4 separate regions of the Homo sapiens genome follow, and all the other regions are linked to region 1. The links come from fine-mapping of genetic effects on gene expression. A gene starts in region 1. Each other region holds a variant in brackets. All regions are shown on one strand. Distances are from middle to middle.

Region 1 (7,654 bases):
GTAACTATCAATGGGATTTTCCATAACTATCTGGATGCAAAATGAAAATCTTAAGAAGTTGATCCAATTCTAAAACTTACTTCTCAACTTACTCATAAATATGAAGAGACAACTCATCCATATTTTCTTCAAATAACATCTGGTTGCTTGGCCAGACTGTTAATACCTGAAAAAGTTTCTGAGTTTGTTCCAACAAATCTACACTTAAAGAGCTTAAAAATGTGTTTATGCATTAAACATTCTTTTCCACATCTGACTTAGGGCCAGCGATGTGACTGTCAGAAAGAACCTTGCCAAGAACTCGGAAAGAAAGGGAAAACAATGTCTTTTAGAAGTTTAACTGTGAAACCAGCACCTATTGGATTAGGGCAGAGGAATGAGAAATCACCGCAAAGGGACAAAAATGCTTCTAAGCCAGCAAGAGTTGGCTGTGACTCCACTAAAGGTATAAAACACACATCTAAAGGCTATATTAGTCAGTCATGGAGTCATGGAAGAAGGGTTGCTCAGACAGACTTGAGCAGTACTCACCAAGGGTCCATTCTGAGTGGAAGGGGTCAGGAACAGCACAGTTGGGGTAGCACAGAACCACCACCAAGTCATCTCTATTGTGAAAATCAATGCATCACTTTGCCTTTGCCTGATTACCATTAAACCTTACCCCAGGCTGGCCTGTCTTATTCATGATGGAAAACTCCACATTGAGCATACAGCCTAACCTAGGGCAGGCAATCATTAGATGTTTGCTCAATGAATTTGCTCCAACTCTTTGCTCACAACTGCCTGATGATAATTTGGCTCCCCACATAGTTCTGACTACAGGGAGAGAATGACCTAGTCTGGTGGATTTGAGAATGCTGGTCCTCATGCCAGCAATAAGACTCATTGAAGTAGACAGGTTTAGCATTTGAGTTTCCTTACTCGAAGGTTGTTCCCAAAGGAAGGGTCTGTGTGTGCTGCTGTATCAAGTTTCTGAGCCCAAAGGGCTGGCAGCAAGTCTCTGGGCTATGGTAACTTTACCAGGATAATGATGATAGTGGTAGCGATGGGACCAACCTTGGCCATGAACAGAGCATCTTGTGCGTACTATCAGACATTGTACTGTATGTTTTATACACTTGAGCTCATTTAATTCCCATAATAATCCAATAAATTAGGCATTATAAGTATTCACATTTTGTAAATGAGGATACTGAGACTCAGAAAGCTTTATTAACTTACCCAAAGACCCATATTCAGAGTCTGGATTCAGATCCAGATTTGTCTGACTCTAAAGTCTAATTTTTTTAATTGTAAAAAAAAAAATACTACCTTTGGAGAGATGAACCCTTATCCTTCTCTTTGACACACTCCTCTGCTTCAGCAGTGTGCTCTCGGCCATCCCAGTCCATCTTCAATATGACTATTCATCAATGCGCCACTACTGTACAAGTCTTCACATAAAATTACATAGGATACCAATGCACCCTTAATTAGAAGTGCACAAAGTCAAGCCCTGTTGCAAGGAACAGCATCACCATCTACCCTATGCCATCAGTACCATTAGCTTCACAAGCCAAAAATGGGGGCCTCTTTAACGTTTTCCTCTCCCTCACCACGCCTGCCACAACCCGTCCAATCATGTACATTTTCCTCAGTTGAACCTCTTCAATACTTCCCTAATGCATTCACTTGCCCCCTGTTCACCATTTCCATCGCTACTACCCATCTCTCACCTGGACCACTACGACAATCTCCAAGATTGTGTTCTCACTTCCACTTTTGCTCCACATGGCTCCATTTTGTGTCCACATCTTGGGAATGCATTCTTAAGGACACATCCAGGGATCTTTATATAATCTAATCACAAATTCCACTGTTTAAAACTCCTCAGTATGACCCTTCGCCATGTCCTGGGCTTCAGCCCTAATAGTGAGTGGTCTGTGGTTTTTGGAATTTACTCAGCTCTAAAAACTCCGGGATGGCACACACATACCAGGCATGGATACACCTGCATCCCCCTGGACCAGCAGTCTCTCCACATCTCCCTGGAAAACCTGTACAGGTGTTTTGGAACTCACTCTCATTTCAGCTCCTCCAGGAAGCCTGGGTTAGGTGCCCAACTGAGTTCTTCTCATCACAACCCCAGCTCTCACCCCTCATCCCACTGTATGGAAATTTTTTTTATTTATGTGACTTCACCTCCAGACTCTGACCTCCCTGAAAGCCAGGAGCCATTCTGTTTATACACAGTGCCTAACATGAACAAATGCTTGTTAAATAAATGAATGAATGTGAACCTGGTATACCATAGGCGTCAGAACCCCCCCCTAGCTTCCTCAAGCATTAGCTGTGTGATCTTAAGAAAGTTGCTTAATCTCCCTAGACCTCAGAGTTATTGTCTGTAAAATGGAGATCATAAAACCTATACTGTCAAGTTATTGTGAGATTTAAACTAAATTATATAATAGATGTAAAGTCCTCAGTGTCATGCCTCATATATAATAAGTATGCAACTGTTAGTTGTTATTATTATTACTGTGCCCTTCAAGACCCTACTGAAAACATTCATGTTCTTGAAAGACTTCGAATCAATTCCCAGTCCACCATGATGACTGTGCTGCTCTGTGCTGCATTTCATAATGCATTATTTTGCACCCTTGATATTGTTTGAAAGGGTCTGCCCTTTCCGTACTTTCTTCAAGTCGCCTAATACTTGAACAAATGCTTTTAGAATAAATGATATTATCAAGTTTGGTTTTGTTCTATAAACTAATGGTGCCCTTTTGCTATAGATCTTACAGTCCATTGGCGTTTCAAACCATGGAAATTCACTTTGCAACTCCTAATGATGCAAATGCCATAAAGAGAGGCCAGTGAGAGGAACACACTTAGGGGGAACGGCAGGGCTCTGGAAGGGAGACAGGTGGTGATCCCAAATTAGAAATCAGGTCTTAAAGGGGCCACAAGCGAGATGACATCTCAAAAAGAGGGTTTCCTTTGTCACAACAGATGTGAAAAGGTGAATGGTCAGACCAATACTTAAAAGAAACTTACAGCTTTGCCCCTGTAAGCGATACTGTGCAGCCATTAAAAATAGGAGGCAAGCTAATAAAATGGCAAATAAGAACATATAAGGGACAATGTTAAGTTAAAAAAAGATTCAGATAACGTATGGCTTTTGATCATAGTATGTAAAATTTGCTTTAAAATAAACAAAAAACTTAAAAGGAGTAGACCAAAATTTTAATGCTGTAACAATTTGCTAAGTTTGTGGGTGAAATTTTCTTTTTATCACTTTCCCATACCGTTTGTAATCTTGCCATATTCTTTTAAAATACAAAAAGTATTTCTTAGAAAATACATATTCTGCGTGCCTCTCTAGCAGATGTCTCTAGAAAGAAATGAGATAGCGCAGAAGACACGCCCTAGACTGCAGGGGGCTCCATGAGCCCAGAGCCTGACTCAGCAGCGTGAGAACAGGGGCGAACCTGGGCATGGGGCACTCTGCAGCTTGATCCCGCCCTGGATGGGTCCCTTCTTTACCTGCCACCGCCTCGCTGGGTGTTACTGAGTCCCCCGCCAGCAGGCCGCCCTCGGTGGGCGCAGCGCCCCTCCCAGTCCCGGACCATGCTATCCCCAAGAGACCCTCCTCGCGAAAGATCTCTCTGGGAGAAGGGAGGAGCTGCAAGGGGCCGGAAAGAGTTACAGGGCGCAGGCCTCTGCGACCTCGCCCTCCCCATGCCCGCGCGGCTCCCTACTCCCGCCCCGCGGGCCGATGACCTGTACCTCTTGCAGGGGATCAGCGCCTTCCTCTCGTCCAGCACCCGCACGCGCTGGTTGAGCCCGTCGTAGGAGAGCAGGGCGCGGCTGTTGCGCCCGCTACTTTGCTGGTACATAACCTGGCGCCCCTCCCACTGCTGCGGCGCCTGGCACGGGCGCGGGGCTCCCACCGCCCCCAGGCTGCACAGGCCGCACAGGGTCCAGGCCCAGAGGCCGCCCAGCAGCCAGGCACCCAGGGCGCCCGGGACGGTGCGGAGGGGAGCGCGTCCTGGCATCGCGGTCAGCCTTCCCCGGCCCGAGGGCAAGCCCAAGCCCAAGGGGGCGCTGAGGCGTCCGGGATCAGAGTGGCTCCCGCCGGCTCTTTCCGCACTGTGCCGGGAGTGTGGTCTGGACCAAAGTGCTTCCTGTCCCTTCGGTGGCCTCTGCCGCTTTTGAGATCCGGACGCGCGAGTCCCGGTAGCCGGGACCAGGGCCCGGGGAAGGCTCCAGTGAATCGCGCGGGAGCTATTTCTGCCTGGGCCACTGCCTGCTGCCACTGCCTGCTGCCACTGCCTTCTGCCGCTTCGGTTTTCACTGCTCACTGCTGCCAACAGGAAATGCAGTGGCAGTGGTGCCACTAGCATCCTGGGAGGCATCGTGTTTTAAGAGGGGGGATGGGGGGAGACTGTGCTGAGAAGTGTGTTTCTCCACTAACTTCAGTGTTCAACAGGTAATCACACAGGGAGGGGCAAGTTCAAGGTCAAGATAGGAAAAGCAGAGCTGCTGCGTTTGCTGTGCAAACGTTTGCCCCGCCTACATTGCCCCTCGACAAAATTGCAAACTTCTTCCTCCAAATTAAAAGTGGAAAGACGAGTCTTTTCCTGAAGAAATGATACTAGCTATTCATCATGGCCGCTCCTCAGCTCCCATTCCCAGTGAAGAGTCTAGGAGACTAGTAGACAGCCCCTTGCATTGGGCCTAGGACTCATGGACATAGCCTCAAGGTCACATTGCAGTGAGACTGCTCCTCCCATCGCCTGGCAATACCACCAGCCGAGTGGTTTGGGTGTCTGGGGGGTTTCGCTTCTTCAAGAATAAGGTTAATTGGGTTTATAGTTATGTAATGTTAGGATCTATAATATGGAATGAGCGAGGCTCACACACCTGTAGTCCCAGCTACTCCTGAGGCTGAAGTGGGAGGATCGCTTGAGCCCAGGAGTTAGAGGTTGCAGTGAGCTATGATCATGCCACTGCACTCCATCCAGCCTGGGTGACATGGCGAGACCCTGTCTCTAAAAATATAGTGATAAAGTATGAAATCAAGAAAAAAGAAAGGAACTAAAAAAATGTATAGCGTCTTTCCATTTGAACTGCATTTCAAGGATGATTAAGATTGAGCCAGGTGAAAGTGGGAGATAACATTCCTGAATGAAGGGCATAAGGACAAGAAAAGAATAATGCTGGGGTTCAAGGACAAGGTAGAGGAGTACTCTGAAGCCATAGCACTCATTTTAAGGAATTTGTCATTGATATTGAGGACTGTGGGAACTATCAATCAATGTAAAGCTAGGGAGGAGCATCATCAGGCATATGCTTTAGAAAGCCCACTTAGACAACAGAAAGGGTAGGGCCAGAGGGAAGGCAGGGAGAGGAGGAAGCTACTGTTATCATCCTGGAAAGAGATGATCCTGACTCAGCTAAGGCAGCGGGAGTGGTCATGGAAAGGGTGGAAGACAGGTGGGAGCTGTAGAGAAGCATTTCAACTCAGAGAGAGAGGTTTCTGGTTTGGGCCACTGGGAATCCAGTCCTGAGTGAGGAGAGATGATCAATTCATTTTAGGATTGGTTGATCTTGAGCTGACTGTGGAGTATTAAGGTGGAAATATCCAAGGGACAGCTGGATAAATACTTCTGGAAACCAGCAGAGCTTTTGGATTAGGAAGCCATAGGTACATAGGTGGTAAATGAAGCCGAAGAGTAGAACAGTGGTTCCTGGGGAAATTTCACATCCCCCTCCCCAGCAAAGAAACATTTGGCAATATCTGGAGACATTTTTGATGATCACAATGTAGATGGGGAGGAGGCTACCGCTGACATTTTGTGGGTAGAGGCCAAGGATGCTACTAAACTTCCTACAATGTGCAGTACAGCCACCTCCCCTCTCCCAAATGAAGAGAAAATTATCTGGCCCCAAATGTCCTAAGTGTTGGGGGTGAGAAAACCTGGAGTTCAGGGGAGTGTTGAGTGTGAGAAGAAGGATTAGGATGGAGCCCCAGAGAGCTCCAGACATTTAAAGGATGGGCAAAGAACAGGCACTTGAGGAGACCAAAAGGAGTCACCAGAGAGAAGCCACTGAATGAGGCAACTTCCCGAGCCTTGTTAAATAAATGTAAGGCATGGAAAGAATGGACTGAATGCTGAAGTAGGGTGTTCTAGAATCACAGCCTCCCTGGAAGTCCCGAAGAGGAGGGACAGTTGACAGGTTTTCCTGATGCATCCTTCTCTGCTGCCCCCTGTCTGTCGAACCACCAGAGACACTACCAATGGGCCGAATGGGGCAGGCACAAAGCTTTAGGAAGAAGGGCTCTTCATTTCCTCTTACCTTTTCTTAAAGGGCATGCCTCAGAGAACATCAGGGAAGCCCATAAGACTTTGTGACTTGGTACTTACATAGTTAAACAGATGCAGCAGGTTCAAACTGGCTGCAGAAATTTGAGCCCTCTCCGAGTTTGCCCTGCTCAGATTCATAGGAAAAGTGTAGGGTAGTTCAGCTCTTTCTCTTGCTCCCCAGGTAGGAACTCCAGCTGAAAATCTTTTTCACCCAGTGAAGGGTTTAGACTCATTGGAGTTTACTGCTAGAAATGGCTTGAGATGTCATCTGGGCTTTCCTCCTCATGTGATATTTTACTAGCCTGGCTTGGCATCTTTGGAGGTGGAGACTGGTTCTATAGGAACTAGATTACCTTTCTAGAGTGGCTTGGCAGTGTAAGAACACCCTGGGCTTCCCCTAAATAAGAACCAGACTCTTTGGATGAATCCTGAAATGTATTTGTCTCATTTATCCTTTTCACTTACTATGTTTAATTCATGTTCCCTAAAAAATAAGATAATGCATTTAAAGTTCTTAGCTTCATACCTTGACCATTGTAAATTCCCAATAGATGTCACTTGTGCTTGTTGTTTCCTCAGCTGTTTTAATCCTTAGTCTTTAGTTTTAATCCTCAGTCAAAACTAAACTAATTGTGTAGGTTTAAGCTTTGGAGAGAAAAACCATGTGCCTTAAATTCAAGTTAAACTATGTTTTTAAAGATTAACATTCAGAGAACATGTTTCCATATTGCTGATGCCCTAATAAATAGCATATACCAGAAGTCTTACCACCTGAAGATTGATATACATCAATCTCATATAAATAAATCCTCCCTTTTCTGTAGATAGCTGAGCCAGCAATTGGACTACCTTTTCCTAATGCAAGTAAGATAAAAGAGAAAGCAAAACATACATACTTGCATCCCATAGTACACAGCTTCTTACTCAACTCAAGCAACAGTCTCTGAGCACATCAAAAATCAAGATTTTAGGCTGCTGAGGTGGAAATCCTTTGGCATGAAGGATCAGAGCAGGGGAGACCTTTCAGATTGTGGTGCCCAATGTTTTCTCCTGGGTTCCACTAATGCTGCAGAGGGGAACAGGGAGTTAGAAGGAAGAGGAAATGTTAGAAGACATTTCTGAAGCTGGAAGATGCTAGCACACCTTCCCCCAGTTCTGTTAACTTCCTGGAGCAGAAACAAACCAAGTGTTATACTGGAAAAATTTCGGCCCAAACTGTCTACTAGCAACAACAACAACAAACCACACTCCACACAACTAAGGGCGGAGTGGGAGTGATTTATACAACGTGACCCTCCTGTTCT
Region 2 (7,654 bases), 35 kb before region 1:
CTTTTGGCAGAAGTGGCAACAGTGCATGCCAACATTTTTCTACCTTACTCCTGCTTGCCCCGGCACCTTTCAAAGCCTGGAAATGGAATGGCCATGACCTTGCTGAGCCATGACCCTTGAGGGCCAGTTAGTGAAAATTCTTGCACAGGTTGGCATACTGCTGATGGGTACTTCTTGTTTCTGGTGCCAAAAAATAACTTAATATATTGTGACTCTACACCCTTTTTGTGCTTAAATGGAAGTGTGACCATGAAGTTTGGGGAAAGTTAAGGTTTCACCACAGCGTAAAAGCCTACAGGCATTGCTGGCAATCTAACAAAGGTGATATTGAAATAGTTTTATTTTAAGCTCATATCATTCAAAATCAGCTTTAGAGAAATGTTTTAACGTATTCCCCAGTCTTTTCTTCACTTAGTCAACATGACTTCTATAAGTAATGCACAAATAGCATGCAACCAGTAAATAAAATCATAGTTGAAAATTATTATCAATTATCCTCCCAAGTCAAGTGCATTTGATGTGGACTTCTGTCTTCTAATCTATGAGATGGGCATAATAACAATAGTAGCTAATTCAAAGATGGTTGTTGAGGTTGAATAAAATAATCAGTATAAAACTCTGGAGAGAATGTGACACAAAACAAGTGCTCACTGATGTAGATTGAGGTTGATACTACTGTTATTTTCTCTATCTTAAAAATGTTGGCCGGGCGCGGTGGCTCACGCCTGTAATCCCAGCACTTTGGGAGGCCGAGGCGGGTGGATCATGAGGTCAGGAGATCGAGACCATCCTGGCTAACAAGGTGAAACCCCGTCTCTACTAAAAATACAAAAAATTAGCCGGGCGCGGTGGCGGGCGCCTGTAGTCCCAGCTACTCGGGAGGCTGAGGCAGGAGAATGGCGTGAACCCGGGAAGCGGAGCTTGCAGTGAGCCGAGATTGCGCCACTGCAGTCCGCAGTCCGGCCTGGGCGACAGAGCGAGACTCCGTCTCAAAAAAAAAAAAAAAAAAAAAAATGTTATGTGCAAAATGCCAGGGTTCATGAGAGATGTATTTATTAAGGGGAAGTTGCTGGGGTTTTTTTTTAAACTACATGTATATTATACTTGACGTTGCCTGAGCATGGCTAGAGGTGGGTGCATGTTTCTGCACACGAATGTGAGCAATGAGGAACAGACAGAGATACCTTAGGGAATGGTTTAGCTGACGGGTCCAGCAGAGCCCACTGAGGGCACTGCCTTTGTAGGCCTCCAGGACCCTGCTCTAATCCATAGCAGATTCATACAGTCATACAGGTTTGATTTTGTTGGTCCATGGAGGGTTGATCAGGATCTCAGGGGGAAAGAAGCCAGAGGTAGAAGACATCTAATATTTTGAGTGCTGATTGCCTGCAAAGCTGTGTGCTACACACGTTCTAATGCTATTTCATTTAACCCTAACAACCCCCATATGCCACCTTTTTTGTTTGTTCGTTTGTTTGTTAGAAGTGGAGGAAACTTAGGTTCATAGACTGTTCAAATGACTTGTCCACGGTAACACAGTGGTAATGGCGGACAGAATCAGCATCTGAACTCAGGTAAGTATGGTTTCAAATCCTCATCCTTTCTACTACACTGCACAGCCTCCCTTACAGACTGACATGCACTAAGCAATTTAACTTAAGAGACTGGGAAATAAATCAGAAAAACATTGCATTATTTTGCAATGATGTTTTAAACTTTTCCAGTGAGTGAAATACTTAAATCTGCCATTTTGGATATTCAGTTATGATTTTAAAAAATTACTTGAGAAGTAAAATTTCTAATCAGAAGAAAAGTTACCTAGTTTGGAGGGATCATTCTGAGCTTATTGGATTCTGCTTGACCAACAGGCCTGGCCAAATCTCTCTGTTTTGGATGTTCCTCCCATGCAGGTTAGCTACTGCTCTGACCAGCCCAAGGTCTGAGGAAGGCAGCATTGGGCACCAAGGCACAAACTTCTTTCCTTGTCCTTGCTCCTTTTCCTCTGTCGCCAGTGGGTCTACTCTGTGTGCCCTTTTGCTGACCTGGGAGCGGTAAGATCTACTTGTGTTGGGACTTGCAGTAGAATGGACAGAACTAGTAATTTGGCCTGCTCTGGCCTGCGGCTACTTTGGCCTCCACTTCCTCCAGTTGGTCTAGCCTGATTGACCAGACGTCCACAGAAGTGCTCGGGGCCAGAGCTCCAGCTAAGTAACGGTGATGACTTGCTTTGCTGTCTCCTGACCTTGCTCTGTTGTGGATCCCTGACAGGGAGAGTGAAGTGAAATATTCCTAAATCTTAGGCAAAATAATGACACATGACTTTAATCTCATAATTGTCCCCAACATTCTGTATATGACTGCCAGATTCCACATTTTTCTCTCCTGGACACAGTTAGATAAACACTGCCAAATCCTTGGTTTTAAGATTCCCTAACTAAACTCCATGTAAACCAACATCCTTCTGCGAAAACACTTCATTTTCAGACGAAATTACAACATTCCAGTGTTCTTTTACATCAGCCCCAATTCTGATTAAACTTTGATGAGACTGCATTTCAATGGCAATCTTGCTTTCATCGGACTTCATGATTTCTCCAGTTTTATAGCCCCAAACTTGAAGACCTTCTCTTTCTGTGATGTATATCTCTAAATAGCTACTTTATCCATTTATTAGGTATCAGTCCTATATTTTCAATCACAGAGCTTAATCTTATTTCCAACTTTGGGGCACCTAAATTTAGTCTATTTATGCCTGACTTTGTTAAGTTGATTTGTTGATGACCACTCTTCTAGAGACACATGGAAAATTTGTTAACAAACTTATTTTTGAACAGGATGGTTGTACTGAATGATTACATATGGCAGGAGTCTGGGGAAAATTTTTACTTATCTCCATTCTAGGGACATCTACTGCAAATTCCATAATAGACTCTCATTCCTCTATTATCTGAGCTATTTGAATTACCTCAATAAAGCTGTTTCCTCCTCTTTCTTCACTCAGGAAATACAGAGTTCTCATGACTGAACAGGGAAAGTAAGAGGTTTAGAAAGAATAAGATGGATCTGAGAGTTTTCAAAATCACTTGATAACCCATTATTATCCAAAGACTACCTACATAATCATATACTTTCCATACAAAGTTAAACTTAAAAAGTCCTTTGAGGTTCAATACCTACACACTTGAATACACCATAATACTGAACTTTAGTTGTTTTGAGAAGACAAAATAAAACTCATTTTAAATGTATTGAACTGAAAAGGCAGAGAAATTATTCCCTGAACAAGCAGGCTTTCTTTTTAAGGCTATTTTTATTCCTCATTGAATGTCAACATGTACTATGAGGTACATAGACATGGAAATAATTCTAAATTTCTGACAGGCGGGGCCAATGGTTCATGGTTCAGGAAAGAACGTTTAGTCTGGAAATGCTCTAATTTAGAGAAACTTAAAGGGGAGGCAACTGAACTGAAAATCTCTAAAGTGCTGCTCCATTGTGGCTTGTGCTACTCTCATGTTTATTCATCTGTATACATCAACAGCCCTTTGGACTGAGAATTTATGGTGATAAATGTTTTCTCCTCCTCCCCTACATCCTTCTTTTTTCTTCTTCCATTCCTCTTCCTTCTCTTTCTTCTTCTCTTCTTCCTCTTCTTTTTCTCTTCTCCTTCTCCTTCTCCCTCTTCCTCTTCCTCTTCCTCCTCTTCCTCTTCCTCCTCCTCCTCCTCTTATTCTTCTTCCTCTTCCTCTTCTTCTTCTTCTTCTTCTTCCTCTTCTTCTTCGTGTCCTCCTCCTCCCCTTCCTGCTCCTTCTTCTTCACCTCTTTTTGCTGCTTGGGATATAGTTAGTTTGAGCTAGATAGGATTATAGGATTGCTATCATCATGATATTTTTTGTATTAAGGATAGGACATATATGGATCTAAGTAACGTCTTCAGTCCCAAGATGTTTGAAGTTTTAAAATACATCTAAACATCTTTGCAGTGCTATTAGTTATTTTTTATGTGATAAGAGTTATGGTGATAGGAACATAGGTTTACCTGGAGGAAATTATGAAAGGTGTTAAGTACAGGGAGGTTTAAGTTATAAGAAACATCATAAAAACATACACTTTTCCTGGGCTTGAGATGATGTCATTTTGCCCACTCCCATTATTCTAATGTCCACTTTAAGGTTATTAAAATGTCCTAAGATCATTCAAGACAGGGCAGTCTACATCTTCACTTCATTATCCCCAAGCCCTCAGAGATGCCACAGCTACTGAGACAAGGTCACCTAACACTTTAGAATCAGAAAGTTCTTTA[A/C]AAGCAAAGGGCTCTTCTGAAAAGAGACTAAATTGCAACTGCTTCCCGTATGTGCCCATCAACTAATGTGATCACAGAACTGCTTTAGAAACAACTTTTATCTTAGTTTTTTCCTCATCAAAGATTTTCAATTTAGTTTTTACACATTTTAATTTTTCTTAAAAAAGAATCCCCCATTTTATAATTGAATTTAATATAAAACTAAGCTTTGCTAAAATGCACTTATATAATAAGAGAGGACAGATATACCACGATCCCGCAAGAAAGGTATCATTTCTGGTATCAGGAGTGAAACAAAACCAACAGACCCTAAGTTTTTCTAATACATATATCAATACCCACATGTCTATCCCAAAACTACACTTTTAATTAAGCAGGTTTGTGTATTTGGTTAACTGGGGACTTTTCAATAGTTAGATTGGTGCCTCCTGATTGGGAAACTAAGACCAGTGATTTCCCAACAGGTATTCTCCCAGGCTGACTGAGAAACTAATCAACTAGGGCTGAGAGGTTATTAAGTAACATATTCTAGGCTTGAAAACCCATTTCTCACAATAACAGATAATGCCTTGACTTCTTTTTTTTACATAATTTTCTTTATTAAAATCATAGAGGTTATGTAAAAATGGCAATAATGCTAGTAATGTTTAAGTAACAAGAGTACCTATTTTGCCATCAGTTATCTTGGTGAAGGAAAGGAATACTTAGCTGTGTGATTTAAACAGTTGTATGTTAAAATAAATATACAATATGCCATTGGGAATGATATAACTGCAACCACAACACAACACATGCATATACTCAGATTACTTAAATCCTGAGTGTGTTGTATTCATTGCACATTATTTCTTTTTAAAAAAGTTATTATTATTATTTATTATTATACTTTAAGTTCTGGGGTACATGTGCAGAACGTGCAGGTTTGTTACATAGATATACACGTGCTGTGGTGGTTTGCTGCACCCATCAACCCATCATCTACATTAGATATTTCTCTTAATGCTATCCCTCCCCTAGCCCCCCACCCCCTGGCAGGCCCCAGTGTGTGATGTTCCCTTCCCTGTGTCCATGCGTTCTCATTGTTCAACTCCCACTTATGAGTGAGAACATGTGGTGGTTGGTTTTCTGTTCTTGTGTTAGTTTGCTGAGAATGATGGTTTCCAGCTTCATCCATGTCCCTACAAAGGACATAAACTCATTCTTTTTTATGGCTGCATAGTATTCCATGGTGTATATGTGCCACATTTTCTTTATCTAGTCTAACATTGATGGGTATTTGGGTTGGTTCCAAGTCTTTGATATTATTTCTAAATTATAGGATAGTTATAGCCCACTCCTTGAATGCTGAGACTACATTATATTTTCCAACTTTAAATATGAAATAAATATTGAAAATAAGTGTTCATTTTTGCTCTAATGAAAACAGTATAAATTTTAAAATTAGGATATCATTAAGGGAAGCATCTCTCTCCCTGAATAAACTATACAACAAATCATAGGCCCAGTATTTTTTCTACACATGCAGTTGAGCTAATAATTCTGCTTTAAAACAAATAAAAATATGTTCTAATCATTTATTATCTTAGCATCATTCCAAAAAGAGATGGTTGTTGATATCAGAATATCCATAAATAAAGTTAAATTTGTCTCTTAAAGAGGTGTTCACCTACAAAGCCTTCAAATATCACCAGTTATTCACAAGTCTTTGGCTGAGGAGGCTTACTCTGTCATTCAATATAAATTATTTTCACTCAACAAGAATGACAAGAATGGCATTCCTGCATTTGAGGTGCTTTCTGTGGATGTAGAAAGACAAGATCTACGTAAGTGGAAAAATGTAAAAACACCCCATATGCTGCAGGTAGATATATAGGCAAAGTGATTTAAAATAACAGAGGCAACATTGAGAAAATGAAGGCTTTTATTTGTTTGTTTGTTTGTTTGTTTGTTTGCTTATTTGAGACAGGGTCTCTCTCTGTTGCCCAGGTTGGAGTGCAGTGGTGCAATCTTGGCTCACTGCAATCTCCACCTCCTGGGGTCAAGCGATTCTCCCAGCTCAGCCTCCTGAGTAGCTGGGACTGCAGAGAAAGTGGATTTGGTAAAGGAAACCCAGCAAGAGGTGAGCGTTTTGTTTTCAAATTATGTCAAATTTAATTTGGCGGGAAATTATTAGTAGTTAATTGAAAAATTTCCCAAAGACCTAAAATTCTTGGCCTTCATTAAATATTTAAAGAATTTTAAAATGTGTCCCAATTTTAGGAATCTCAATTAGCAAAGCTTATGGTAAGAAACTCACCCTGATGACAGAGCAATTGGGGACAGAAAGGCTGGGCCTCCTTGACTCCACATGGCCCATGAGATAGGGGGAGTGAAGGCTCTGTCGTAGAGCTGGGCCTTCAGGGTGGCAGAGTTGAAGGCAGGTGTATGTCAAGCACACCCTGGGGCTTGCCTGGATCCTGGCAATTTGGAAGTGGCAAGGCTTCATTTGGAGAAGTAGAAGTAAATTGTTCCAGTGCAGCATAAAGTTCAGAGACATATGAGGTGGGGTATCCACAAAGTGGTACCCAGCCCTGGCTCAGACCACTATCAGTGATACCACCTCTGCAGATGAGTGAGGCACTGGGATACTGCACTTTATTAATAGGTACAAGTCCACACCTATTTAATAGCCCTCTTCGTTGTGACTCTGGTGGCCACTAGAAAGTTTTTACATAAGACTGCAGAGTAAGGAAACCTTCCTGCCACCAAGAGGTGACCCAGCCATTACTCCTCAAGCCCTTTGGGCATTTAGGGAAAGAAGAAACTGTGCCAAGGAGTGAGGCTGGGAAGACTCAGAGGCCTGATGAAAAAGGGTGTGTCCACCATGCTATGGGGTCTCCACTTTACTTGTAAGCAGTGAAGAACCACAGAGGCAGGGCGCCATCAGATCAGATGTGACCAGATGTCAAATCCTTCTGGACTTTTTACTCCTTTCTGTGAAGTGGCTTAATAACCAAAACAGGCCAACTGAAAAACAAAAGGGTACCCACTTTGCATGGGCCTCCATAAAATAAAAGGAGTTTCCTTCTCTCTCTGAGTAAGGTTGTGGCCTGCAATGGGCAAAGACAAAGTCCCAGGGCTAAGGAGAGATGTGCAGCTTGGAGAGGAGAGGATCATTCTGTGGTTGGGGAGACAGGAAGTGTGGCAAACATGGTCACAAAGGCGTTAGCAGGCTGGGCCACCTAGAATGCAGCTGCGAAACTCTTCCCTGTCTGTGAGGTTCAGATGCCTGCATGGCCAAACTTCACAATCCTCTGCAACCCCAGGAACCTGCATGGGCACTGGAGGGAGCAGGTGCTTAGTACTGGCTTG
Region 3 (7,654 bases), 53 kb before region 1:
GGGACCGGGTAGTGCAGAAGGAACCAGCAGCTCAACTTGGGTGGTTTCAGAAAAAACAAAACAAAAAAACAGTTCAAAACTTCACTTTGAGCCAGGACAGTGGAAAGAGCCACAGCTGTACCATTAGTGTCAGTATTTTTAGCAGAACCTACCTCCCTTAGGCTTCAACTTCTCTTACTGGAAAATTGCAACCACTCGTTAACTGATCTCCCTGAATCTGTTCTCTCCACCCTCCAGTCTTTTCTGTACATTGCTTGCAACAATTATCTTCCAAAAAATCAAATGTGGTCATGTTGCTCCTCTAGAAATTTTTATTACCTTGTTGTTACATACAAGAGGAAGGCCAGACTCAGCAGCATTAACTGTACTGCCCTTCAAAACCGAATCCCAGTCAAAATTTTAGCCTCATCCTATGCTGGTGTTTTAACTTGTATTTCAGCCATTCCAAACAGGGGAGAGCTTTTTCATACAATTGAATATTCACTTACTGTTCTTCCTCCTAGATTATCATGAACTTGGTTCTCTGCCCAGCAAACTCCTTCCCATCTCAACCTCTTCTCATGAACCTACAAAAATTATTTCCTTTCTCTGCCATTTACCGAGGTGCTTCATTCAGACTCACTTAAAGGCATCTGTCAGATCCTTGTATCATGATTTGCTCATGTGTCTCTCTCACCACTGGACTGACAACTTGAGAGCAGTGACTTCCTTCCACTTCCTCCTAGGAGCCACCCTATAAATGTTTGTTGAATGACTTAGTCCACAATGAGTGATACAGCTGACTAATATGAAACTAAAATGACCTTTGTTCACACAACAAACTACATTATTTTGTTGTTATTGTTCTGATCCAGTTTTTTTTGTACTTAGAAATTTATTTTATTTGTTCATCATGCATCGTTTCTCCAGATTTGGCCAATCGTTCCAGCCTGACAAGATAGTTTTATGTATCACCTTTTTAAAATTTTGAGTGTTATCCAAGGAATAACATCTCTTTCAGCTGCATCTTCAGCAACATTTATTATTGTGCCATCAATTTCCTCATCCAAGTTATAAATAACAATTCTGGACAGAGTGTTTTACATGACATTTATCTTATCTTCTCTAGGATTATACTTATTTCTTCTTTTCTTTTATCAACTGGATTGTGAACTCCTCAAGATGGGCATCATAGATCTCTCATGTTTATATTTTTTTAACTTTCTTGATTTTAGTAAATGCTACAGAATATCCAATGTCCCTTGATAATGGTGGCAGAAAGCTGATTCTGGATTCAGATGACCTAGGATCAGATCACAGTTCCCCACCTGGGTGTCAACTTAGACAAGTTCTTCAAACCCTTCAAGCTATCGATATAACATTTTCTCATATACAAAATGTGGAAAATAGTAGTACTTACATCATAGAATTGTCTTGAGTGAATAAAACAGATAATGTATATAGAACATTTAATACTATACTTAATACAGAGTAAATGTTTAATATAATAATAGAGATTATTAGAGGTGTTGAATAAAATAAATAATGGAAATATCAATGTCATCAAATCTGCTAATTTATTCATCACTGTCTATTTGCTAGGGCTGCCATTACAAAGTACCACAGTCTGGGTGGCTTCAGCAACAGAAATCTATTTTCTCACAATTCTGAGGCCCGATGTTTTGAGACCTTTATTCTTGGTTAGCAGATGGTCATCTTTTCCTTGCATCTTCATGTGGTCTTTCCTCTGTACATGTCTGTGTTCTACTCTCATCTACTTATAAGGACCCCAGTTTTATTGGATTACAGCCCACACCAATGAACTCCATTAACCTTATTTATCTCTTTAAAGACCCAATCTTGAAATACAGTCACATTCTTAAGCACTGAGGTTTAGGATACCAAACATGAATTTTTTGGGGTGGAACACAATTCGGGCTATGACAATCCGCAATAGAGGTCACACCCATTATAAGTAATATCTAAGTAGCCATAACCAACTGTATAACCAATAACAACTTCCTGGCTCTTCTTTTGTTTCTTTGTTTTTTTTTTGAGATGAGGTCTCACTCTGTCACCAGGCTGGAGTGCAGTGGCATGATCTTGGCTCACTGCAGCCATAATCTCCAGGGCTCAAACGGTCCTCCCGCCTCGGCCTCCAGAGTAATTGGGACTACAGGTATGTGCCACCACACCTGGCTAATTTTTTTATTTTTTAAATTTTTTGTAGAGACAGGGTTTCCTCGTGTTACCTAGGCTGGCCTCAAACTCCTGGCCTCAAACAATCCACCGACTCTGGCCTCCCAAAGGGCTGGGATTACAAGCATGAGCCACCATGCCTGGCCACTTGCCCTTCTTTTAAAAGGATTATATGTCCCCACCTTCTGCAATTTGATTGGCAGTGCCTCCAATGGAAGGGATAAATATTCATGCCCATTGCCGTCAGGCTCAGCCATGTGACTTGATTTGGTCCACGCAAAGTGAGTGTGTGTGCACACTTCACTACCAAGCAGAAGTTTTAAGAGCCATTGATTGTTTTCTTTAGCTATCTTACTCTTTTCTGTCTGCCACAAGGACCATATATCTCAAATAAGCGCTGCTCCTTCAGCCTAGTGCCCAGAATGAGCACTTTTTAGCTTTCAATGAGACATATTGGGCAGAGCTGCCTAGATAAGAAGCTGCTGCTAATGCACAAAGTCAAGTGACAAGTATATGGTTTTGGTTAAGTCACTGGGATTTGGAGGGATTGCTACTGCACTAAAGCTGCCGAATGTGATAACCAACAATGTATTATCCACAGATGCATATATAGCTCATTCGTTTTCCTTAAATTAATGGAAGGAATAGAAACCTGATATGCCATTGATAAGGTAATTCTAATAAACCCACACTGCAAAAAGAGGAGCAGGGTATCAAAAATTTCATGAGGGATCAAAGACTTATTTATTGGACATTGGACATTCTTAGTACTTTTCCCATTTATATTATATGTAAGAACATGGGAGCTTCCCTCATGCGTAAATTTTCTCTCGAATATACAGGAATTACAGATTTTGCAGGCAGAATGGCAGCTTTTCAGCCCTGCTTTCCTTGTTCTGGAGAGAAATCTTCTTCTGTTCTTGGAGAATCACAGTGGATACAGAAAGTAGGAACTGTCTGCTCTCACTTGGCAAACACAAAGGCTCTGTAATGCGGTAGCACTTCACTCACACCAGTATCAAATTTACCAAAACACATGCTAGGTTCACAACTCAATTAAAGAACCATTCTTCAACTTTCTCTTATTTCCCAGTTTCTAAGTGAACGTGACAACTGAGCCAAAATGTAAGGAATGAGCAGGATTTGAGCTGCTCAGACAGGAGAAAGACATTTAAGGCAGATGGTGCAGCTTAAACAAAGGCACGAAGTATGTTGGAATATAAGCCGTTGAGGGTGGTTGGAGCAGAGGGTAGAGGAGTGGCTACAGATAGGATTGACAACTTAGCTGGAGGACCACCCTTGGAGGCCAGTGTCCTTGGTTCTACACCAGAGCACAACTCAACAAACAATGGGTAAACACTTTTAAGTTTTATGGATCATAAATTTATATGTTTCTACCTGATTTTAAAATGACTTCTCCATAATAAATACATCATTTTGCATAGCAGTTAAAAACATGGGTATTTTCAGCAGACAGCTGAATTCCATACTATAGCTTCTCCATGGGTGTGCCCTACTGAACCTGGGTACATTGATTAACCTACCTGAGGCTCAGTTACTTCTTCTGAATAATGGTGGTAATAGTGATCATCATCCTTCTATAATGAGGATCATTGGCTATAAAGATGCATGTAAATTCTTGGCAAAATATCAGTGTCAAAAGTAAAAGTTCCAGAAATGGTGCTTTCTGAAACTGTTGTTATCACCATTGTTCAGAAATGAAAGCTTAGTCATATGCCCCTATGAGGTTTGACCACCTACACCCCTTAGTC[G/A]TGCTCTGACATTCTAAATACTGCTTCTTATCTGTCCTACAAGGTGCTTAAGACAAAGTCAGGAAGAGACATGACAATTCCTTGATTGATGTGGACTAAATGCAGAGCCATAGTTATGCCTCTCAGTGCCTGTCTCAACTCAAACAGGGCTAAGCTCACACAGTTCAAAGGCAGCTCAGCTGAAGGCCTGTCTTTCCATGGTGACCACACCAGATACAATCATGGAGCAGGAAAGAAAGAGAATGTCCCTGATGACTCCTGTTCTGGAGACTCTCTGGGAAATCAGTCTTCTTGGCCACTATCAAGGCTTGGGGGCAGCTTGGATTGAAAACTGTGGCACTGCATTAGTAGGCAACTTTCCTCCATGAAAATATTATTTTTCTTTCCTTTATTGAATTACTGGCTTCATTATTTTGAAATTTATTTGGGAGAGGAAATTTCTGCCTTCCTTGAATTAAAACCTGTGGTTAGGCAGCGGTTCTTTTGTACGTATGACGTTTGCTAGGGTTTTGAAGAAAGGAAGGGATGAAGGAAAAGAAAATGATGAGGATAAAACCACCAGTTGTCTTATTTCTTCTTAAATATTTTCTAGTTTCAGATGAAAGTGTTTGATCACTGAGTATTTAAAACAATATTGTACTGTGAGAATTTTGAGAGAGTGTTGTCAGAGAAATGAGGAATGGCATGATCCAGAATCATTTTTCCCTTTTCCCACAAAAATGAAAACATGAGCACAGGGCTTAAATGGACAGTAAACATTGGTATTTTTTTTTTGCACTATTTCCCCAAAATCTAACCAGAAAAGTTACTTCCCTTATCAATCACATAATCTTAATAAATTATATTGACCTAGTTTATGATATGGAATATCAGTTGGAGTGTCCTAGCTGCTTTTTTATTGCTGATGGGTTGAGTGTTCCCCTTAAATAACACATTTCTATTAGGTGATACTGACTATTCTAGATAATGTTGTTTTAAATAAATGAATTACAGCAATCAGTTCTCTCTCTCTCTCTCTCTCTCCCATATCTCCTCTATTTTCCTCTCTGTCTGTCTCTTCTTCTTCTTTCCTTCTGTTCTCTTTCTGAAATTCTTTTGTTTATCTACCATTCATTCATTTAATCTACATTTACTAGCACTTAAAGAAGCTTGGAGAACAGAGCAGGGAAGACTTGGAAAGAATCATAATTCAGAAAGATACAGCAGCCCCTCATCAATCATAAAGGTAAGATTTCTCAAAATAGTCAAGGGAAAAAATTAAGTTCTTAAAGGCATAAATCAGATGAGTGTTTTGAACTAACATGCAGGCCTTTTAAACTGCCTATTTTTATTACCTGCAATAACCAAAATAGAATGTCCTCTGTTTTTCCTATTTTCAAACTTCAAGTTCATGACTACCTCTGACTGGGTTCACTGAGTTTCCAGAGACACAGAGTGGTTTGACTTTTGGTGTGAAGGGTGAGAAAAAAATTATTTTAATAACTGGTTAACTTGGTTTGCTTATTAGGCAAATAAATTGATACATATCTCTGCCTAATTTTTAGGATATAGCATGATGTTGATGACAGGTGGGGAATTACCTGTTCATCATTGAAGCTCCAGAAGATGTGAGATGCTCAGCTCAGAGTCTGTTTGCCAGGTGTTTCTTCTCACATGGCCTGGAGGGAGGGGTGGGATGACTTATAAATATGCTTCTGCCAAGGAGACAGTGAATGCCCAGACTGGAGTATATTTCTTAAAAAAAAAATACCCGCAGAGTTGGATTAAAGGAAAGATATGTGTTTACATCCATTTTGGTGTATTACTACCCTATTAACAATAAATGCTTTTATGTTTATGTTCTGTTAAAAAAAATCATACCAGTAGTCAACTCTCATGGAAACAACTGACTTAATTAGCAAAATACCTTAATTAACCACTTGAGATTAGGAGCTGAGTCACTGAGAGCATTGGTTAGAAAACAACAGGACATTAAAGAAAGAGCTCAACTGCTCTCAGTTAGAAAAACACAGGAATATGGGAATGAGAGAGGAGAAAAGAAAGAAGATTTTTTTTTTAAAGAGATGACCAAGTCACGTGCCTACAATTTCCATGAGAATTTTCAGAAATTTTTATGTCCAATCTTAGGGTGCATTCTGTACTGCCTGTAAGCTCCTTCTATCTGCCTAAAATTGCAGTAAAGACCTTGAGTAATTTGTTTCTTTGTAAAAATAATAGAAAGGGGTTGGATCTATGTTCAATCAGTGCCAAGATGTGAATAACAAAAAATAGCAGCAAGCATGGGGCATGGAATGATTCACCGGTACCTGGAAGTCACGGCTAGAGCTTATTATGAGGACATAAACCTCCCCAAGAATTTAAAGTGCATGGGTAATGGAGGCAAAATTCTGGGCAGTAAGGAAAAGAAATCCAGAAGTAGAGACACATTTATTGGAATTACCCAACAAAGAAACTCACTGCTGGGGAGTGATTACTGTATATTCCTAATGGAGATTTGCACAAAACCTTTTGGAGTCCCCAAGGATAGAATGACTAACTGAGTTGAACAGAAAGGAATTCGCCCTATGTATGAGAATTTGGTTGAATGACCACTTGCTCAATGTAGTCCGTTAATGATGACTAAAGCAGACAGTTCTTGCTAGACAAAATTTCCTTCAAATTCCTCAATATAACACTCCTGCTAGGGGGATAAGTACAATCCGCTAATGAGAGCCATTGCTGGAGTGCCCAAAGGCCATTCTCTGATTGGATTCTCCTCTCCATGTCCTCTCTAAAATCTCCCCTGTCCTACAGGGCTTCAGCGTTGGAGCATCTGAGTACCAGCCAGGTAGACAAGTATGAGGAGTTTGCTTTCAGTCATAAAGCATTCAAGGACCTGAAATAAGTCCAGGAAGACCACCCTTTGGTGTCCCAGGAGGAAAATCCTTAATTAGTATTGAGTTAGAGCCAGTAAAAATAAGTTCCCACATCCAAGAGTATAAGCTGAGCCAAATCAGGAAGAGAAACCTAGACTAGAAGGAAAAAAAATTGTAATAAGATGGGAGAAATTTAAGGGATAGGACAGAGGAGATTGTCTCAGTTGAACTGATGGGTCCCTGGCTTATATGTATTTGCTGTCAGCCATTTGGTTTGGGTTTCTGGCTGTGTTGGTTCAACTTAAACGTACAGGTTCAGTACAAGTTGTGCAAAGAAAAAGCACAGAGAACTCAATGGTAGCTGAGTCCTCACAAGAGTGACAGAACCCAGAATGACACAGAAGTTCTGGTTAATTCCCCAAATCAGTGACCAAGGCTTTGTGGTATAGTTGAAAGAAGATCAAATTTAAAGGAAAGCAAGAATGATTGATTCCAAACTTGTTGAAAAAATTACTAGTTTTTTGTTTGTTTGTTTGTCTTTAGTTCAGGAGACCTGCTTCATGGATCTGAGCCTATACAAATTAAAATTTTAAAAAAATACCTACTTTGCCAGGCTGTCTGTAAGGATTAAATAAACTACGCCTGTGAAAGTAAATCATGTAGTGTTTAGCAAATATTCATTTGCATCTTTTTCTCCCTGCCTCTTTTCTTCCCTTTCTCTCTTTCTTTCTCTACCCTTCCTCTTTATCTTCCACAGTAGATACCTGAGAAGTATTTCTGCCTGAGAATCAGATGCACCAAGACTTTTACTGCAGTCTGATTTTCAGACATTGCCACAGTGACCTTCAA
Region 4 (7,654 bases), 22 kb before region 1:
TTCATGATAGGCTTATGTTCTGAGAAATGTGTCATTAGGCTATTTCATCACTGCACGAACATCATAGAGTGCAGTTACACAAATCTGGATGGTACAGCCTACTACACAACAGGGCTACACAGTATGGCCTACTGCTCCCAGGGTACAAACCTGTACTGCATGTGACTGCACTAAATACTGGAGGCAACTGTAACACAATGGTAAGCATTTATGTATCTAAACATAGAAAAGGTGCAGTAAAAATATGGGATAAAATATAAAAAATGGTACGCATGTATAGGGTACTTGCCATGAATGGAGCCTGCAGGACTCGAAGTTGCTCTGGGTAGGTGAGTGAGTGAGTGAGTGGTGACAGAATGTGAAGGCCTAGGACATTTCTATACACTTCTGTAGGCTTTATAAACATTGTACACTTAGGCTACACTAAATTTATAAAAACTATGTTCCTTTCTTCAATAATACATTAATTTTAGCTTCCTGTAACTTTTTAACTTTATATACATTTTGATTTTTTAAACTTTTTGACTCTTTTGTAGTAAGACAGCTTAAAACACAAATTGCACAGCTATACAAAAATATTTTCTTTATGTCCTTATTTGATATGCTTTTTTCTATTTTAAAATTTATTTTATTAAAAAAAAAACTTTGTGTTAAAAATTACAACACAAACACAGATATTAGCCAGGCCTACACAAGGTTAGGATCATAAGTATCACCCTCTTTCACTCCCACATCTTGTCCCACTGGAAGGCTGTCAGGGCCAGTAACATGCATGGAGCTGTCACCTCCTATAATAACAATGTTTTCTTCTGGATACCTCCTGAAGGACCTGCCTGAGGCAGTTTCACAGTTACCTTTTATGTAAGTGGGAGCACACTCTAAAATAACGATAAAAGTATAATATAGTAATTACATACATGTGGCCAACAAACATAGGAAAAAAAGCCCAACATCACTGATCATTAGAAAAATGCACATCAAAAACACAAAAAGACACCATCTCATGCCAGTCAGAATGGCTATTAATAAAAAGTCAGAAAACAACAGATGCTGGCGAGGTTGTGGAGAAAAAGGAACACTTTTACACTGTTGATGGGAGTATAAATTAGTTCAACCATTGTGGAAGACAGCGTGGCAATTCCTCAAAGACCTAGAACCAGAAATACCATCAACCCACCAATCCCATTACTGTGTATATACCCCAAGGAATATAAATCATTCTATTCTAAAGATACATGCATACCTGTGTTCATTGCAGCACTATTCACAATAGCAAAGACGTGGAATCAACCTAAATGCCATCAATGATAGACTGAAAATGTGGATAAAGAAAATGGGGTACATATACACAATGGAATACTATGCAGCCATAAAAAGGAACAAGATCATGTCCTTTGCAGGGACATGGATGGAGTTGGAAGCCATTATCCTCAGCAAATTAACACAGAAACGGAAAAGCAAATACTGCATGTTCTCACTTATAAGCGGGAGCTGAATGATGAGAACAAATGGACGCGTCGGGGAAGCAACACACACTGGGGCCTGTTGGTGGAGCTTGGGGGAGGGGGAGCATCAGTAAGAATAGCTAATGGATGCTGGGCTTAATACCTAGGTGATGGGATGATCCGTGCAGCAAGATACCATGGCACACGTTCACTTGTGTAACAAATCTGCACATCCTGCACATGTACCCCTGACTTAGAATAAAAGTTGAAGAAAAAAAAGTATAATACAGTAATTACTTATATGCTAGAATTGTGTACAACTGACAGCACAGTAAGTTTGTTTACACCACCACCACCCCAGACATGTGAGTAATGCACTGCGCTACCACATACTATGGCTATGAGGTCACTAGGCAATGGAAGTTTTTCAGCTCCATTGTAATCTCATGGGACCACCACTTCATTGACTGAAACGTCATTATGAAGCACATCATTGTATTATTAGTAGCCGTATGCTTCAGGTTTCTATGAGGTAGTATGGAAATATAAACATGACATCATTTTACACCTTTATGTGTATCTTGTTTATTTCAGAAAAGATTTGAAACGGCTTACAAGGGTAAAAATAACCCAGACACATACCTTTAGAAATGAGAATGAATATAGAAAGAAATATAAGTGTGCATTTTATGAGATATTGCTCAAAAATGGAGCTAATTTTTTATAATATGCATGCAGGGTCAACGTAAAACTGTTAGCCCTTTGAAAAAGTTTGGGTTTGGATTGTCACTGTTTTCTCATAACCAGCTAAATCTCTGACACAATAGAGCCTAAGCACTGATTGAAGAAACACAGCAACATTAACCCAACTCTTAGAGCATTGTTCATTTGTAAATATGGGAATTGTTGTCCATACACAAATCCTGTCCTGTGATACTTTTAATGACCCGTGGGCCACCCAAAAAACAAGTTGTCTTCATTGTTCTCCTCACCACCAGCAATATCTTGTGCTTTCCCCAGTGCTAGATATCTGGGCTAGAAAGGCATTCCTAGCTTTTGCTGATATCCCTGTTGTGTGCTTCTCAGACTGCAATAGTTGTTCCCTGGAGAATATGTAGCCATGTGCAGGAGAGGGGGTTTCCTTCTTGAAATCATCGCCATCACTCCCCAAATCCACAGGATCACAGAAGTGTCATTAATATGGTTTGGCTGTGTCCCCACCTAAATCTCATCTTGAATTGTAGCTCCCATAATTCTCATGTGTCATGGGAGGGACCTGGGGGGAGGTAATTGAATAATGGGCACGGTTCTTTCCCATGCTTTTCTTCTGGTAGTGAATAAGTCTCACAAGGTCTGATGGTTTTATAAATGGGAATTCCCCTGCATAAGCTCTCTCTTGCCTGCCACCACGTAAGAAGTCCCTTTGCTCTTCCTTCTTCTGCCACTGTGAGTCCATTAAGCCTCTTTCCTTTATAAATTACCCAGTCTCAGGTATGTCTTTATTAGCAGCATGAGAACAGACTAATACAGTCCTCCTAGCCTCATATTTGTCATACATGTCATTCTAGCCTCATATTTACCTTCCTCACCAGAGTTTACTAGACCAGAGAGGAGACAATGAGATTCTTTCATCTCGACCTGTGTCATGGCAACCGAGGTCTAATAGTCAGCCTCTTATGTGGCTGGACATACCACATGTAAATTTCGAAGCTGAGGGAGGCTATTTTCCAAAACGCAAATGGAATAGGATTAAAGAATGAAGCAGAGAGAAGCACTAGCAAACTGGGATTCCAACAGCTGTTCATTTCCTGGGCTCTTTTTTTCTGAGATGCTTGGAGCACCCCCGCTTACAGAGTTACAATAAGCTTCCTTTGTTCTAATAAACTTTCCTTCATTTTTGGCTTGCAGCTTTTTATGCTACTCAGTTCTATCATTTCTGTTAGAATTGAGGACTCCAGTGCTCCATGGAGAGACCCGGGGAGCAGCTGCCAGCACAGCTGTGCTGGGAAAGGCCCAGCATGGCCCTGTGTGGCATCAAGGGCCACAGATGCCTGGTCAGTCACCTGCAACAGAAGGGCAGGGGACAGCAGGGAGGGAACACTCACAGCTTCACTGTTTCCCTGAGGCCCGCTCTGCCCACATACAGAAGTAAAATTTAATTTTAAAATGAGAATTTTAGACCCGGAACAATCACTATGAAATGTTAACATTTGCTAAATCTGGGTGGTCTGAACACAAGTGTTCGTTTTGGTGTTCTCTGTACTTTTCTATGTTTTCAAAATATTTGCTTTTTTAAAAGTAGACATCATCTGATATTGAGGTTATGTTGACTGTACCTCAAGTTAAACTGAAAATAATA[A/T]ATTAATGGAAAACAAAATAGAACTATATAATTTGTTTTCAAAATCCCATGTGGATATAAATGCTAGTACTGCTCTATGACAAATTTTAGAAAACATTTTAATGATACTGTAGTGGCGTGTGTGTTTATGTGAACATATTAACAGTTAGGACATAAGTCTCTGCATCACAAATAGAATACAGGGCCTGTGGCCTGACAGGGACCAAAGGTCAAAATGCAAAGATCAGCCACGGTTGAGATGAGTAATCAGAGTGGGGATGCTGTACGGGAATAACCCGTGGACCCAAGGGATTAACAGACTTTGAGAGGAATTGGATTCCTGGAGGCGAGATCAAAGACTGGCTCTGTCACAGAGGCAATTGTGAGATGAGAGGCACCAACGCCCCCGCTGGGGCACAGTCAAGCAAGGTGAGATGCTGGAATTGGTGTTCAGGACAGGGAGGCAGACCAGCCCAGGTCAACAACAGCAGACAAACTTCGCCTCCTTGCTGGCCAGGCACCAAGCAAAGCATAGTTCACTGGGAGGGGCAGGCGAGTTCCCACAAAGGCCCTGCTGCTGCTGAGCCTCAGCTGTGAGCAAGGTCAGGTTGGCTAGGCCCTGCCAAAGGCTCAGAAGGCCAAGCTCTCCACGGCAACCACAACACACAGGACGGGCCAGCGGCCTGTTTTGCTTCTCACCATATGGGACAAAGGATTTTTGTTGCTTTTACTAAAATTCTCAGGTTACATTGACAATTTCCATTGTTTCCTGCAAATCCATTTCCCTAAAAAGTAGGCTCTCGAATCACCATGTTTTCTGAAACACCGAAAATCTGGGGAAGTTTTCTTGCTTTTGAAAATAGTTTTTTTTTAGTAAAACAGATTCATGATCAATATAAAAAAATTAAGCAATCTAGGGATGGAAAGGGAAGCAAAAATTGCCAAGAAACTCTAATTTACAGAAATAACAACTCTGTACATGTGTCTGGACATATATTCTTCTAAATATGTCTTTATGTACGTATTAATTTTTATATCTAAATTTTTATGTTTTAATTGTGGCAAGATACATGTGACAAAAATGTACCATCTTAGCCATTTTTAAGTGTACAGTTCAGTAATGTTAAATATATTCACATTGTGGTACATCAGTCTCCAGAACTCTTGCAAAATTGAAACTCTATATCCATTAAACAATAATAACCCATTCCTCCCTCTCCCCAACTCCTGGCAACCACCATTCTATGAGTTTGGCTACTCTACATAGCTCATGTAAGTGGAATCACACAATATTTATTCTTTTCAGTCAATATAATATCTTCAAAGTTTATCTGCGCTGTAGCATGTGTTGGCATTTCCTTCCTTTTTAAGGCTGAATAACATCCCACTGTATGTATACACCATATTTTATTTATCCATTCATCCACTGATGGATTCCTAGGTGTTTCCTAACTTTTGGCTATTGTGAAAAATGCTGCTATAAACATAGGTGTACAAACATTGGATTGATTTTTCAATATGTACTATACTCATTTTACGCAAATGAGTGCCTATCATTTATTTGTTTTCTAACTATGCATTTTAAATTCAACAATTTGCCCTTGATAATCTTTTAAGTAAAAAGATAAATCTAATTTTTCTAATTTTTATTATAAAATATTTTAAATATGCAGAACAGTTGGAGAACTAGTATAATGACCACTTTTATGTCTGCCTCCTAGGCTCAACAATTCTCTACATTTTACTGTATTTTTTCTAGTTTTCTAAATACTTCCTTAAAACAAGAGCTTCTGCCACATGGTCACAATAGGACTGTATCTTAGAAATAAAAATTCATTCCCTGATATCTGCTCCATATTCAAGTGGCCCCCCAAATACATCTTAAAGCTGGTTTTTCAAATCAGAGTTCAATTAAAGTTCAAGCATTATATTTGGTTATGTCTCTATCAAAAATCTGGAGCAGTACTCCTACCTTTTTATTTTCCAACATGACATTGACTCTTTGAAGAGTTCAGGTTTGCAGATATTCCACAATGTGGATTTCTTTGGCAGTTTCCTCATGGTGGCATTTAAATTGCTATTTGAGCGTTTGTCATTCTTATGAAATGGATATGAAGTCTAAAGGCTCTTTTCGATTTGAGTTCCAAGATGTTTGTAAATAACATGTCATTGGTGAGGTTGTATACTTTGGACTTTATCATATCTGAAGACAGGTGATGTACCTTCCCACTATTAATGCTGCTAACTTTGATCACCAAGTTATATGGTGACTCCAGATATCTGTTATAAAAGTGTTTCCTTTTGCAATTGGCAAGTAATTGATGAGTGATACTTTGTGATGTTGGAAATGTCCTGTTACCCAATAACTGTCACCTAATGGTTTTAGGCAAATCCGTTTCCTGAATCAATTATTTCACTGGGAGTTAGGATCATAGTACCAATGGTATAGTAAATGACATCCATCTATCTTAGTCTATTGAGTACCACTCTGGACTCATGGATTTATTATTTATTCAATGTATGACAAACAATTAAAGTCATTATTCCTTTTGATGCTAAAATTTACCCAAGTTTGGCCAGAGGGAGCTCCTTCAAGTTGGTACATGTATCTTCTGACATAATCCTATTAGTCTCTGAGTGCTTCCCGATGTTCTACGACACAAGGTGGCACAGGCTAACCTTGGACTTTCCCTGTCCCAGATCTGAAATCAGGCATTTCTCTAAAAAACTCTAGTTACCCTTAGTGGGGAAACAACTTAGAAACTGACATCAGGGCACTAGATGGGCTCATTGCCATTGAGATGACATTGCTTTGAATGCTTTTCAAGTGGTCAGAGCTTCCAATTAGAAAAAAAAAACTCGAATTCATATAGATATTTTCCATTTAAATTAACATTACAGGTTTTCCCCCCTATTTTTTGTATATCTTTTATATATCTTTCCTCTTAAAATAAAAATCATGCTTCCTAAAAACATTAACAAAAACATTTATTTGCTTTATTCTATGATTTTGAAATAATAACTTCAAAACTATTATAAATAACAAAATTGCCAAGTGAAGTTTAAGATTTCATTGTAGTTCCTCTTATCCTTAGAATATAATTCCCTAGTATCGAGAGTCAGTATTGTGTCAAAAATTTACTTAGAATAAGCCTATTCTCTGTGTGGTTATGTTTCCAGATTGATAGATCATTAGGTTCCTTTGTTTTAGTTTGTTCCCAATTCAGGGACTTTACACTTTTCCTCTCTGATTTTATTATTTAAATATGTAAAAATTTTCATATTTCAAAACTCAAAATGACAGAAAATGGTACGTTGAGGCAAGTTCCCCTTCCATCCCTATCTCCTCTTCCCTATTCCTCATGCTCCTTATAGATAACACTTTTCAACTGCTTCCATTTTATTTTTCCTGCATGCCTGTCAAAAAATAAGCAACTACATATGTGAATTATTATTTTCTCTTCTTCTTTACAGAAAGAGTAGCATGCCATATAGACCTTTCTGCATCTTGCTTTCTCCATTCTCCACTAATGCCTACAGACTATCCCTATTTTTTCATGGCCATGTAAATTTACTGTGTGCAAATATCATTATTTCTTTAGCCAGTCTTCTACCAATAAACATTGAGTTGTTTCTATTCCTTTGATATTAACAAAAATAATGACCTTGTGTTGTGCTGTTTTGGAGTTGTATGTTTAGGGTAAATTATTAGATGTGGAATTACCAGGTCAAAAGGTAAAAGCATTTGTGGTTTTGTTAAATATTACCAGATTTCTCTCCACAGGGTTGTACTATTTTGCATGCCTATCAGCAATATATTATAGTGCCTTTTTTCTTTATAGTCCTGCCAACAGAGCATGTTGTCAAACTT

What was found. PIP is the estimated chance that this variant, and not a neighbour inherited with it, causes the effect.
Region 2: its variant is fine-mapped to the expression of EPDR1 in whole blood (TOPMed, PIP above 0.99).
Region 3: its variant is fine-mapped to the expression of EPDR1 in whole blood (INTERVAL, PIP above 0.99). The same link has a PIP of 0.9 or more in platelets.
Region 4: its variant is fine-mapped to the expression of EPDR1 in lymphoblastoid cells (GENCORD, PIP 0.95).

What each region holds. Positions count from the first base shown.
Region 1 is chr7:37,917,323-37,924,976 of GRCh38, reverse strand. It overlaps EPDR1 (ependymin related 1), which reads right to left and starts at 4,337. Exons shown (of 3, transcript NM_017549.5): 1 at 3,769-4,337. The coding sequence starts at 4,037. RefSeq lists a silencer at 3,643-4,092.
Region 2 is chr7:37,952,270-37,959,923 of GRCh38, reverse strand. No RefSeq gene overlaps it. Among named protein-coding and RNA genes, the nearest start is that of EPDR1, 35 kb to the right of the region's middle. The variant A/C (reference allele first, on the strand shown) is at 4,304.
Region 3 is chr7:37,970,493-37,978,146 of GRCh38, reverse strand. No RefSeq gene overlaps it. Among named protein-coding and RNA genes, the nearest start is that of EPDR1, 54 kb to the right of the region's middle. RefSeq lists a silencer at 2,546-2,840. The variant G/A (reference allele first, on the strand shown) is at 3,951.
Region 4 is chr7:37,939,784-37,947,437 of GRCh38, reverse strand. The region is part of intron 1 of EPDR1 (ependymin related 1); the gene reads right to left. Among named protein-coding and RNA genes, the nearest start is that of EPDR1, 23 kb to the right of the region's middle. RefSeq lists a silencer at 2,917-3,211. The variant A/T (reference allele first, on the strand shown) is at 3,805.